Homo sapiens: one gene and its partners. The protein of the gene in region 2 interacts with the protein of the main gene of each other region in a pairwise test. Each region holds a gene or a part of one and is shown on either strand. Other genes may lie near its edges.

The links. The genes of interacting proteins can lie anywhere in the genome.
Region 1: the proteins of DAGLB (region 2) and NOTCH2NLC interact in binary tests that used the Homo sapiens proteins (3 or more experiments, as listed by UniProt).
Region 3: the proteins of DAGLB (region 2) and NOTCH2NLA interact in a two-hybrid assay, tested with the Homo sapiens proteins (one large-scale study listed by BioGRID).

Annotation. Positions count from the first base shown.
Region 1 is NC_000001.11:149,463,621-149,467,120, reverse strand, and holds part of NOTCH2NLC (notch homolog 2 N-terminal-like protein C), read right to left. Parts: coding exon 3,295-3,500; intron 3,045-3,294; coding exon 2,968-3,044; 3' UTR 1-2,967. UniProt on the Homo sapiens protein: Human-specific protein that promotes neural progenitor proliferation and evolutionary expansion of the brain neocortex by regulating the Notch signaling pathway.
Region 2 is NC_000007.14:6,423,955-6,427,454, forward strand, and holds part of DAGLB (diacylglycerol lipase-beta), read right to left. Parts: intron 2,161-3,500; coding exon 2,034-2,160; intron 882-2,033; coding exon 798-881; intron 1-797.
Region 3 is NC_000001.11:146,156,022-146,159,521, reverse strand, and holds part of NOTCH2NLA (notch homolog 2 N-terminal-like protein A), read left to right. Parts: intron 1-2,706; coding exon 2,707-3,042; coding exon of another isoform or gene 3,043-3,230; exon of another isoform or gene 3,231-3,292; coding exon 3,293-3,369; 3' UTR 3,370-3,500.

The DNA.
Region 1 (3,500 bases), on a different chromosome or scaffold from region 2:
CAATATATATTTGCGGGCCTAGTATATACTGGGCACTGTTTGTAGGTGTTTGGGTTACATCAGTAAACAAAAACAAAGATACTAGTTTTCATTCTGGAGAGGGTAAGAGGCAGTAGAATTTGGAAAAGACAGACAATAAACAATAGACATAATGAAGTAAATTATATAGTATAAATTATATAGTAAGAAGATAAGAGTTACAGAAAAAGAAAACAAAAAGTAGACCAGGGTTAGTAATTAAGGGGGTGGGGGACAGTTACAATTTTAAATAGGGTGGTTAGAGTAACCCTCAATTAGAAGTGCCAAGACGTGAAATGCAGTGGAAGCAACCATTTGAAAGTTGCAGAATACTTTAACAAGCTACTTTGCCTCCTGCTGACTTTGTTTCCCCATTTTTAGAACTGAAATAATAATTCTCATCAAATAAGGGTGCTATTTACATTGAGATAGTGACTATTACTATAAGTAACATTTTAGTCTCTTGACAAGCATGGGAAGCAATGGAATGAAGGGCAATGGAAGGAAGGGCACTGCATTATGAAAAGGACTTTTTAAAAGAAAACCATCTCTAGGCACTATTTCCCTTTGTGGAAATGAACTGAATATTTTCTGAACTCCACCTGGGACATACGAACAATGAGCATGAAATCTTACAAACTGTATAAATAACATTTATTCACAGTGTCACTGCATCATCTATTGTTTTGAATTCTCTTTAAATTTCCTTCTATATATTTATCCAAAGCTGAAGTCATCTGGTTTAGATTATGGGACCCTGAAAAGCAAGAACTAGTCTATGTAACTACTTTTAAACATCTGCACAATGCGATATATATATATATACCACACACACACACACACACACACACACACATATTGATATGTAACAAGTACTATTTGATTATAATTAGGAGTGTCTTGGTTTTCTTATAACATGAACATATATTTTTAACCCAAACAGCTTAAAGCATTTAACGAAAAGTTTTACACACCTACAAAGTGCTTTCAGGAAGCAGATGTGCAGTGCAATGTGGCGCAGTAAGATGCACAAAGCAAAGGCTTTGAAAATAAACTGCCTCGGTTTCAGGACCCAGCCTAACCACATATTAGCTGTACAACTTTGGGTGAATCACTTAACATCTCCAAACTTCAGTTACTTCATGTGGGAAGACTTGAAAAATAATACCTGGTCCCAAGATTTTTGTGTAATTGAGCTAATAAGCATGGAAGTACCTGGCACAGTTCCTGAGTCACCAAAAAAATGTTAGTTTTCTCTTCATCAAATCTCCCCATTCCCACCCCTCATGCTAATCTCCCCTCCCACACACACACACACCATCAGTGAGTAAATAAGTGTCTTGCGTTAAACTACAACCAGAGAATAAGAGACAGCCAAGATTTCCTTACTCTATTTCACTAGCCCTGGCAGCCTCTCAGCTGCGGAATCCTTGGTTATTTCCTTTCTCAAGGAGGAGATACTATTCTAGTTTGACAGATCCTTTCCTGGACACACTCTCAGAATTCCCTAAGGTTCTTATCGTGGCTAATGGATAACAATGCAGAGGCTATGGGAGTGAATAATCACTCTCTCTCAGCTAAAAACTTCCTTTATTGACTTCTCTAACTTCCCGTCAACATCTTGCTGCCAAATCAACCTCTTGTTCTAGGCAATTATTAAAAGCAATTTTCTTGAAACTGAAAAACACATTTAGCCTTCAACAATAAATCACACTAACATCAATTACTAGCCAATTAGATTACTAGAATATCAGACCCAGAGATATTTGCAGTGTTGAAATATTTTCAAAATAAAGTTGTTTACATTTCTATTTCTGTCTTTAATCCTTAAAATGCAAACAAATACAGGAGTGAAGACAGATGTATTTTAGTTATTTCTTCTACAAGATAAAGTGGATAGTAATATTATGTTAAGAAAATACTTATTTAGTATCTAGAATGATAGCATTATCTATTCTTTATTAAAAGAGAAACTAAAAGTAATATAATTAAATAGCTTGTTCTTGTGACTTAAATAATATAAAATTTTCATTTCAATTATGTGACAATGCTTTGTATAGCTGTATTCCAAATACACAGCATGGTGCCTAGAACATAGCAGGCAGTCAATACATTTTTACCAAATGAAATGAACAAATTACCAGTTGATTTTATACTGAGGACCAAACTATGACCTTTAATTCCTCCAAAATAAAACACACAATCCCATTATATGTGAACCATATCCACAATACCAGAATCTAAGATTCCCACTCTGAAAGAGTAACTAGAACAACTTCTTTTGGAGGCAATTCTGCTTACTTAGCACATTACTCCCCCCTACAGTTTTCCTTCTTTTGTTTTTGTACTAAGGATATTTGTATAAAAACAGGATCTTTGTTGCTTAGTAATTCATCTGCTTCAGCTGCTTGTATTCTGTTCCCAATCAAAATTCTTGGTTTTCAGCCTCCTCATCATTTTTATAAGGAGTTGAATGAATTGGCCAAGCTTGTTCCTTTCTCCCTCTCCATGGAACACCAGGCCCCAAGCTCCCCGACACTGCTCCTCTTTTTATTTCTATCTTTGGGTTGTGTGTGCACTCTAGAACACTTGTATCAGTGAAGAGTGTAACAAAGTATTGTGCCACGCATAGTCTCTCATATATCATCTATCAGCTCATCAAAAAGTGCTCACTGATTAACAGAGGATCCCCTCCTCAGTTTCAGAATTCTCTAGCTTTAAGTTAGGGGAGGGTTACCCCAAAGTCAGAGAGGGTACATGGGAGAGGGTTGTGAAGGCCAGTAGCCCAGAGAAAATCAAGGGCAGCTGGGTGCATTTAGGTGGATAAGAAAACAATGAATTACTCCATCAAAAGCAAAAGCACAAGCACATAGTAAAGTTGATCACCTACTGTTAATGTCAATTCAGTTTAAAGCACTTTATTAACCACACATACATATTTTCCAGTGTCTAATTCTCATCGTGTTCTTTTCCATTCCAGACTTCCCTGTCTCTTTCCCAGAGCTCTGTTCCTCTTCTCACTGTTTCTACAAAAGGGACAATAAACAATTTTCTAGCCACTCATCATCATAAACCCTGACATGCTAAATTATCCCCTGCTCAGTTTATGGACCACAGTGGGCCCATAAAACTCCTCCCTCACTAGCAACCCACCCCACACAAAATTCTCACTTCCCTTTTTCCTTGCGCTTCCTAAAAAAAGCAATTGAGCCACACCCACTACCTCCTGTGCTAGGGGTTTGTCCCCTAATCCTGGGACACTAGGGAGCTCCTTACCTGGAAGGCAGTTGCACTCAAAAGTGAAGTCACCAGTCTGCCGACAGGTGCCTCCATTGACACAAGGCGAGGGTGCACAGGGCACATACAGGCTGTCACAGTACTGGCCTGTGAAGCCCTGAAGGCACTGGCACTGGTAGGAACCAGGCAGGTTGAGGCAGGTGCCACCATGCTGGCAGTGTCCTGGAATGTCACACTCATTGACA
Region 2 (3,500 bases):
TGTGGCTTCTCTGGTGCCTCCCGGGAGACCCACAGATGGCTCCTGAAGATGCAAGTTTGGGGTCCTGGCCCTGGACTTAGGGGGGCTACCCCAGAGCCAGTCAGGAGCAGAAGAGGGCTGAGCACACAGGCTCTGGAGTCTCAACTCATTTTCTGGGTCAGCAGAGAAGAACGGGAAGTGAGACTGAGGAGTGGCCAGGAGGAAACCGGAATGGAGAGAAGAAAGCTTTGACAAGGAAAGCGTCACCTGGCATCTCCAAGGGGCCCAGGAGTATGGACTGAGGAAGACAGAAGAGGGGCCATGGGCTGGGGATGGATGTCGGCAGTCCTGACCTCACCTGGAGAACGGCAGGCCACGAGGGCCTGTGAGGATCCAAACCGGGAGCCTCCAGCGGGGCTGGTGGCCAGGGGCGTGACTCTCTGCAGCAAGACTGACTCACTGCCGCCATCTGGCTCTGGTGCAGAAATTCCCCGGGAGGGCTCCCGGGTGTGGGGCCTGGCTGGGCTCAGGGAAGTTAGGCAGGGAGGGGTCAAGCAGGTGCCCTCTGGGAGCTCCTGTGGCGGGGGGGCCAACCTGCTGGCCGCTCTGCTGCTGACAGTTCTCAGTGAAGATGAAACAGCTTCATCCCTTTTTGCAAAGGGAGTATTTCCCAACCCCAGGCTCACATCCTCATTTTCTGTCCTCACCATTTTCCCCTGTGTCTCATGCGGTTACTGACGGATTTCCCCAGCCGAGCAGCTGTGGGCTCCCGCTCCCGCACCCACTCCCAGGGCTGGAAAGTCAGGTTCCAACGTTACCTGCAGAGACATGGTCCCCCTCACAGCGACCACAACAGACTCTTTCCTGTGATCCAGAGCCACTAAAAACGGCAGCTCGTAAACCTGCAGGAGCAAGAAACAAGCATGGGGCCTAAACAGTGAACACACGCACCAGCACGCAAAGTCGGAGCCCTGCAGTGTCTGCAATGACAGCCCAAGTCCTGCGGCACAGAGAGGAGGGGACACCGCCTCTCCACTCACGCTCACTACACAGTGGGACCCACTCTGGCAGGGACTGGCCTTCATAAACCATGCTGCTCTACATGAAAAAGGATCTTTGTTTTCTTAGCCTCTCTCTGACCTCCCCAGAGATTCGGATTGAACTGGCCCAGGGTGCGGCCTGGACCTCAGCAGTGTTAAAAGCTCCTCAAGAGGTTCTACTGGGCAGCAAAGTGGGAGAGCCGCCGATCTGCGCCAGCAGGCCTCCCGCTGCGGTGCCTATGAGAATCACCTGGAGAGACAGCGAGCGACACTGAACACGCAGCACTGCAGCCATGCACAGCTGGCTTTTTTTTTTGAGATGGCATCTTGCTCTGTCACCTAGGCTGGAGTGCAATGGCGCAATCTCAACTCACTGTAACCTCCGCCTCCCGGATTCAAGTGATTCTCATGCCTCAGCCTCCCGACCAGCAGAGACTACAGGCGCCTGCCACCACGCCCAGCTAATTTTTGTATTTTTAGTAGAGATGGGGTTTCACCATATTGGCCAGGCTGGTCTCGAACTCCTGACCTTATGATCCACCCGCCTCGGCCTCTCAAAGTGCTGGGATTACAGGCGTGAGCCACTGTGCCCGGCCCACAGCTGGCTTTTGCAGCTTCTCCCAAGGTGACAGTGACCCCCCCAGAGTGCCAGACCTGCTACACTACACTACTGATGGCACTCACAACCCAGGACGACGATACGAATCCCAGAAGGCCATGCGGCATTAATACTGAGGGATTTCACTCCTCAACAGAAGGGCGAGGTAAGAAACACAGCGCGCTATCTCTGATGAAGACGTCTCTATCTTATGTGAAACCTGGGTTCTGAACCTGCACCAGGGCATCTGTGTGGCTCCCCCAGAGTCTGTGGCCCCTCTGAAATAGTACACAGGACTTAGAAGTGTGTTTGTGTGTCTATGAATTACGGGAAGAATAATTCATAACTTCCATCAGAATCTCTAACAGCTCCAGGACCCAAAAGAAGTGAAGAGCCGCTGTCTGCAGCGTCCACACCTTGTCATGGAAGCTGACGTGGATGAAGTCCCTGTACTGCAGCCCTGTGGTGTGCAGGATGGAGCCGAAGTGACAGTTGAGCTGATCGCCTCCGACCAAGTCATAGTCTGTGGTTCTGCTTCTGCAGCTAAAAAGAGGACAAAGACGTTACTATGCCGAACAGAGCCACTTGGCAAGGAACGTCCATCCTCACTGCCACATGTTCCCAGAGACGCGAGGACCAGAGCGGACAATTCTCAGGACTTAGCCTGGCTGACATGGAATGGCTTTTTAAAACTTAATTTGATCGACTGACTGATTGAGATGGAGCCTCACTCTGTCACCCAGGCTGGAGTACCGTGGTACAATCTCAGGTCACCGCAACCTCCGCCTCCCAGGTTCAGGCGATTCCCCTGCCTCAGCCTCCTGAGTAGCTGGGATTACATGCGTGCACCTCCATGCCCGGCTAGTTTTTGTATTTTCAGTACAGATAGAGTTTCGCCATGTTGGCCAGGATGGTTTTAAACTCCTGACCTCAGGCGAACTGCCCGTCTTGGCCTCCCAAAGTGCTGGGATTATAAGCGTGAGCCACTGCACTGGGCCCGGAATGGCTTATTAAAGATAATACCTCTCTGTGTACACTTCTTGGATAGAGTTCTGACTTCTGGCATCATGTTAATGATTTCTATATTCAAAAAATTCATCAACAAGGATGGGCAAGTCCCTAAAACTGAATGCCAACAGAAGCAGGTAAAGCAAACCTGTCCAAATGAACAGCACAGCCAACTCCGTAGAAAATAAACAAGAAATCATAGAAGTAACTTTTGAGTACTGTGCTCTACGTTTAAAAAACAAAAAGAGGCCGGGCGTGGTGGCTGATGCCTGTAATCCGGCACTCTGGGAGATCGAGGCAGGTGGATCACCTGAAGTCAGGAGTTCGAGACCAGTCTGGCCAACGTGCTGGAACCCCACCTCTACTAAAAATACAAAACTCAGCCAGGTGTGGTGGCAGGCGCCTGTAATCCCAGCTACTCGGGACGCTGAGGCAGGAGACTTGCTTGCAACTGGGAGGCAGAGGTTGCAGTGAACTGAGATCGCGCCACTGCACTCCAGCCTAGGTGACAGAGTGAGACTCCGTCTCAAAAAATACAATTAAATTAAATTAAAATAAATAAAAATAAAAACTAAAAAAACTACAAACACATCGCAAACTGTACTTAGCAGATGCCCTTTTTGTAGTGGAACTGGGTATAGCAATTCTGAAACTATTTTCTTAGTAATAGGGGACTGAGCATGGGTAACTCACGCTGATGTTGCTGGGAGCCAAGCTTCTCTTTGCAGACATGATGTGGAGAAGCAAAGAGAAACTCTGTGGCTTTGGACTAGAATTAAAAGATATCAGGGCCAGGAGACTGACACCCATGATGCCAGCACTTTGGGAGGCTGAGGCGGGAGGATCGCTCAAGTGTTGGAGACCAGCCTGGGCCA
Region 3 (3,500 bases), on a different chromosome or scaffold from region 2:
ACATAATATATATGGAAACCAAATTCAGGGTTGATTCTTTCTTTCTTTCTCCCTTCCTTTCTTTCTTTCTTTCTCTTTCTTTCTTTCTTTCTTTCTTTCTTTCTTTCTTTCTTTCTTTCTTTCTTTCTCTCTCTTTCTCTCTTCCTCTCTCTTTCCCTCTCTCTTTCTGTCTTTCTTTCTTCTCACTCTGTTGCTTAGTACAGTGGCGCAGTCTCGGCTCACTGCAACCTCCACCTCTTGGGTTCGAGTGATTCTTGTGCCTCAGCCTCCCAGGTAGCTGGGATTACAGGCATGCGCTATGAAGCCCGGCTAATTTTTGTATTTTTAGAAAAGATGGCGTTTCACCGTGTTGGCCAGGCTGGTCTCAAACTCCTAACCACAAGTGATCTGCCCACCTCAGCCTCCCAAAGTGCTGGGATTACAGGCATCAGCCACCACTTCCGGCCCGGGGATCTTTCTGTTTCAGTTGTGGGCATCACTCTGAAAATCACACTTGCTAGAAGTGAGCATTTATATCTCTTCTCCACTGTAAATAAGTGCCTCTTAGTGACATGAGTGGAAAGACAAGAAGAATTGCAGTTCCTTCATTTTCTGTCTTAGCTCCCTGAGATGTATATGCTGTGCCTAAATTTGTGTTATAGTTTTCTCCTTTGATTTGACATTCCTTGATAGGCAGAGAGCACTTTTCTGTGCTCATATGTCACATCTCGCATCTTTTTCCCTTATAGAAAAACTCTTGTGTCTCCCATTTACCTTTCTATGAGGTCAGAGATTTAGATACTTTCCTAGACAATCAACTGGAGTATTAACAAATTCAAGGAGTTCTCGCCATCCCATTACTGGGTATATACCCAAAGAATTATAAATCGTGCTGCTATAAAGACACATGCACACGTATGTTTATTGCGGCACTATTCACAATAGCAAAGACTTGGAACCAACCCAAATGTCCATCAATGATAGACTGGATTAAGAAAATGTGGCACATATACACCATGGAATACTATTCAGCCATAAAAAAGGATGAGTTCATGTCCTTTGTAGGGACATGGATGAAGCTGGAAACCATCATTCTCAGCAAACTATTGCAAGGACAAAAAACTAAACACCGCATGTTCTCACTCATAGGTGGGAATTGAACAATGAGAACACTTGGACACAGGAAGGGGAACATCACAAACCGGGGCCTGTCGTGGGGTGGTGGGACGGGGGAGGGATAGCATTAGGAGATGTACCTAATGTAAATGACGAGTTAATGGGTGCAGCACACCAACATGGCACATATATACATATGTAACAAACCTGCATGTTGTGCACGTGTACCCTAGAACTTAAAGTATAATAATAATAATAATAAAAATTCAAGGAGTTCTTATCTCTGTAGTTTAAATAATAAGCGACTTAGACTAATGACAACAAAAAGCCAGCCATGTGAATACCAAATTTACTAGTTCTGTGAGGATATTTTTTTCTCTTTCTCTTTCTGCCTCAAAGAATCTGCTTTGCTTCCCCTGGCATCATGATTTAGTTTTCAACCCGTCAGAGTCTTCCTGCTAGTGCTGGTACTTTCCTACTTGAGAAAGTCCACGGAATACCTTCGAGACCTCTGTCCTCCTGATGGCTTCTATTTCATTTGTTATATAGGGACCCAGAGGTCCTTCATCATTTTCAAACACATCAACAGATATTTATAGCAAGGCCACAATTAATAAAATGTTTCCCAGAATATATGTGTGTGTTACATTTAGAGGAAACAGAAGTAGTATTGACTTGTTTCTATCACCAGAGGTCTATTTAGTAACTATATTTTGTGGAAAATATCGATATATTTTATCCATTCAACAGACATGATTTGAGAGCATACCACGGAGACCCAACCCTGCCAGTGTGGCAGGTGGTATAATAGAAGAAAATAGCAAACTTGGTGTATCTGTCTTTGCGCACATGTATGTATGTGAGGGGCACTAAGGATGACTTTACAGAGGTTGGAACTTTTGAGTAGAGTTGCCAAGATAGGGAGAGTTCACTAGGAAAACAGAAGGGAAGTTGATTTTTTTTTTTTTTTGAAATGGAGTCTTGCTGTGTCGCCCAGGCTGGAGTGCAGTGGTACAATCTCGGCTCACTGCAACCTCCGCCTCCTGGGTTCAAGTGATTCTTCTGCCTCAGCCTTCCAAGTAGCTGGGATTACAGGTGCGCGCCACCATGCCCAGCTAATTTTTGTATTTTTAGTAGAGACAGGGTTTCACCATATTGGCCGGGCTGGTCTTGAACTCCTTACCTCATGATCTGCCTGCCTCGGCCTTCCAAAGTGCTGGAATTACAGGTGTGAGCCACTGCTCCTGGCCCGGAAGTTGATATTCAAACAGGAGCAGCATATGCAAAGACAGTGAGCTCTGAGAGAGTAGATGGATCCAGACTCCTATTGCTGATAGCGTCCTGCAGGATTGGGCTTCAATGTGACTAACCTACAATTGCCTCCAGGTGCTCCACCCACTGAGTCCTTGTGTCTCTGCTGAGGTCCTTGGAGAGTTACTGGAGAGGGCTCTGTGTCAGATGACCTTGAGGAGGCTCTGATTTAGCCTTTTGTAAAATGCAAAGAGTTGAGGTCTTCTCCACGCAAGAGCTCGCTGATGTCAATGAGGTATTGAGGATGGGGCCATCTCCTATTTCTGTGGCCAGTACTGAGTTTTGTTATCCTTCCTTTAGGTAAGGAGTGCCAATGGACCGATGCCTGCCTGTCTCATCCCTGTGCAAATGGAAGTACCTGTACCACTGTGGCCAACCAGTTCTCCTGCAAATGCCTCACAGGCTTCACAGGGCAGAAGTGTGAGACTGATGTCAATGAGTGTGACATTCCAGGACACTGCCAGCATGGTGGCACCTGCCTCAACCTGCCTGGTTCCTACCAGTGCCAGTGCCTTCAGGGCTTCACAGGCCAGTACTGTGACAGCCTGTATGTGCCCTGTGCACCCTCGCCTTGTGTCAATGGAGGCACCTGTCGGCAGACTGGTGACTTCACTTTTGAGTGCAACTGCCTTCCAGGTAAGGAGCTCCCTAGTGTCCCAGGATTAGGGGACAAACCCCTAGCACAGGAGGTAGTGGGTGTGGCTCAATTGCTTTTTTTAGGAAGCGCAAGGAAAAAGGGAAGTGAGAATTTTGTGTGGGGTGGGTTGCTAGTGAGGGAGGAGTTTTATGGGCCCACTGTGGTCCATAAACTGAGCAGGGGATAATTTAGCATGTCAGGGTTTATGATGATGAGTGGCTAGAAAATTGTTTATTGTCCCTTTTGTAGAAACAGTGAGAAGAGGAACAGAGCTCTGGGAAAGAGACAGGGAAGTCTGGAATGGAAAAGAACACGATGAGAATTAGACACTGGAAAATATGTATGTGTGGTTAATAAAGTGCTTTAAACTGAATTGACATTAACAGTGGGTGATCAACTTTACTATGTGCTTGTGCTTTTGCTTTTGATGGAGTAATTCATTGTTTTCTTATCCACC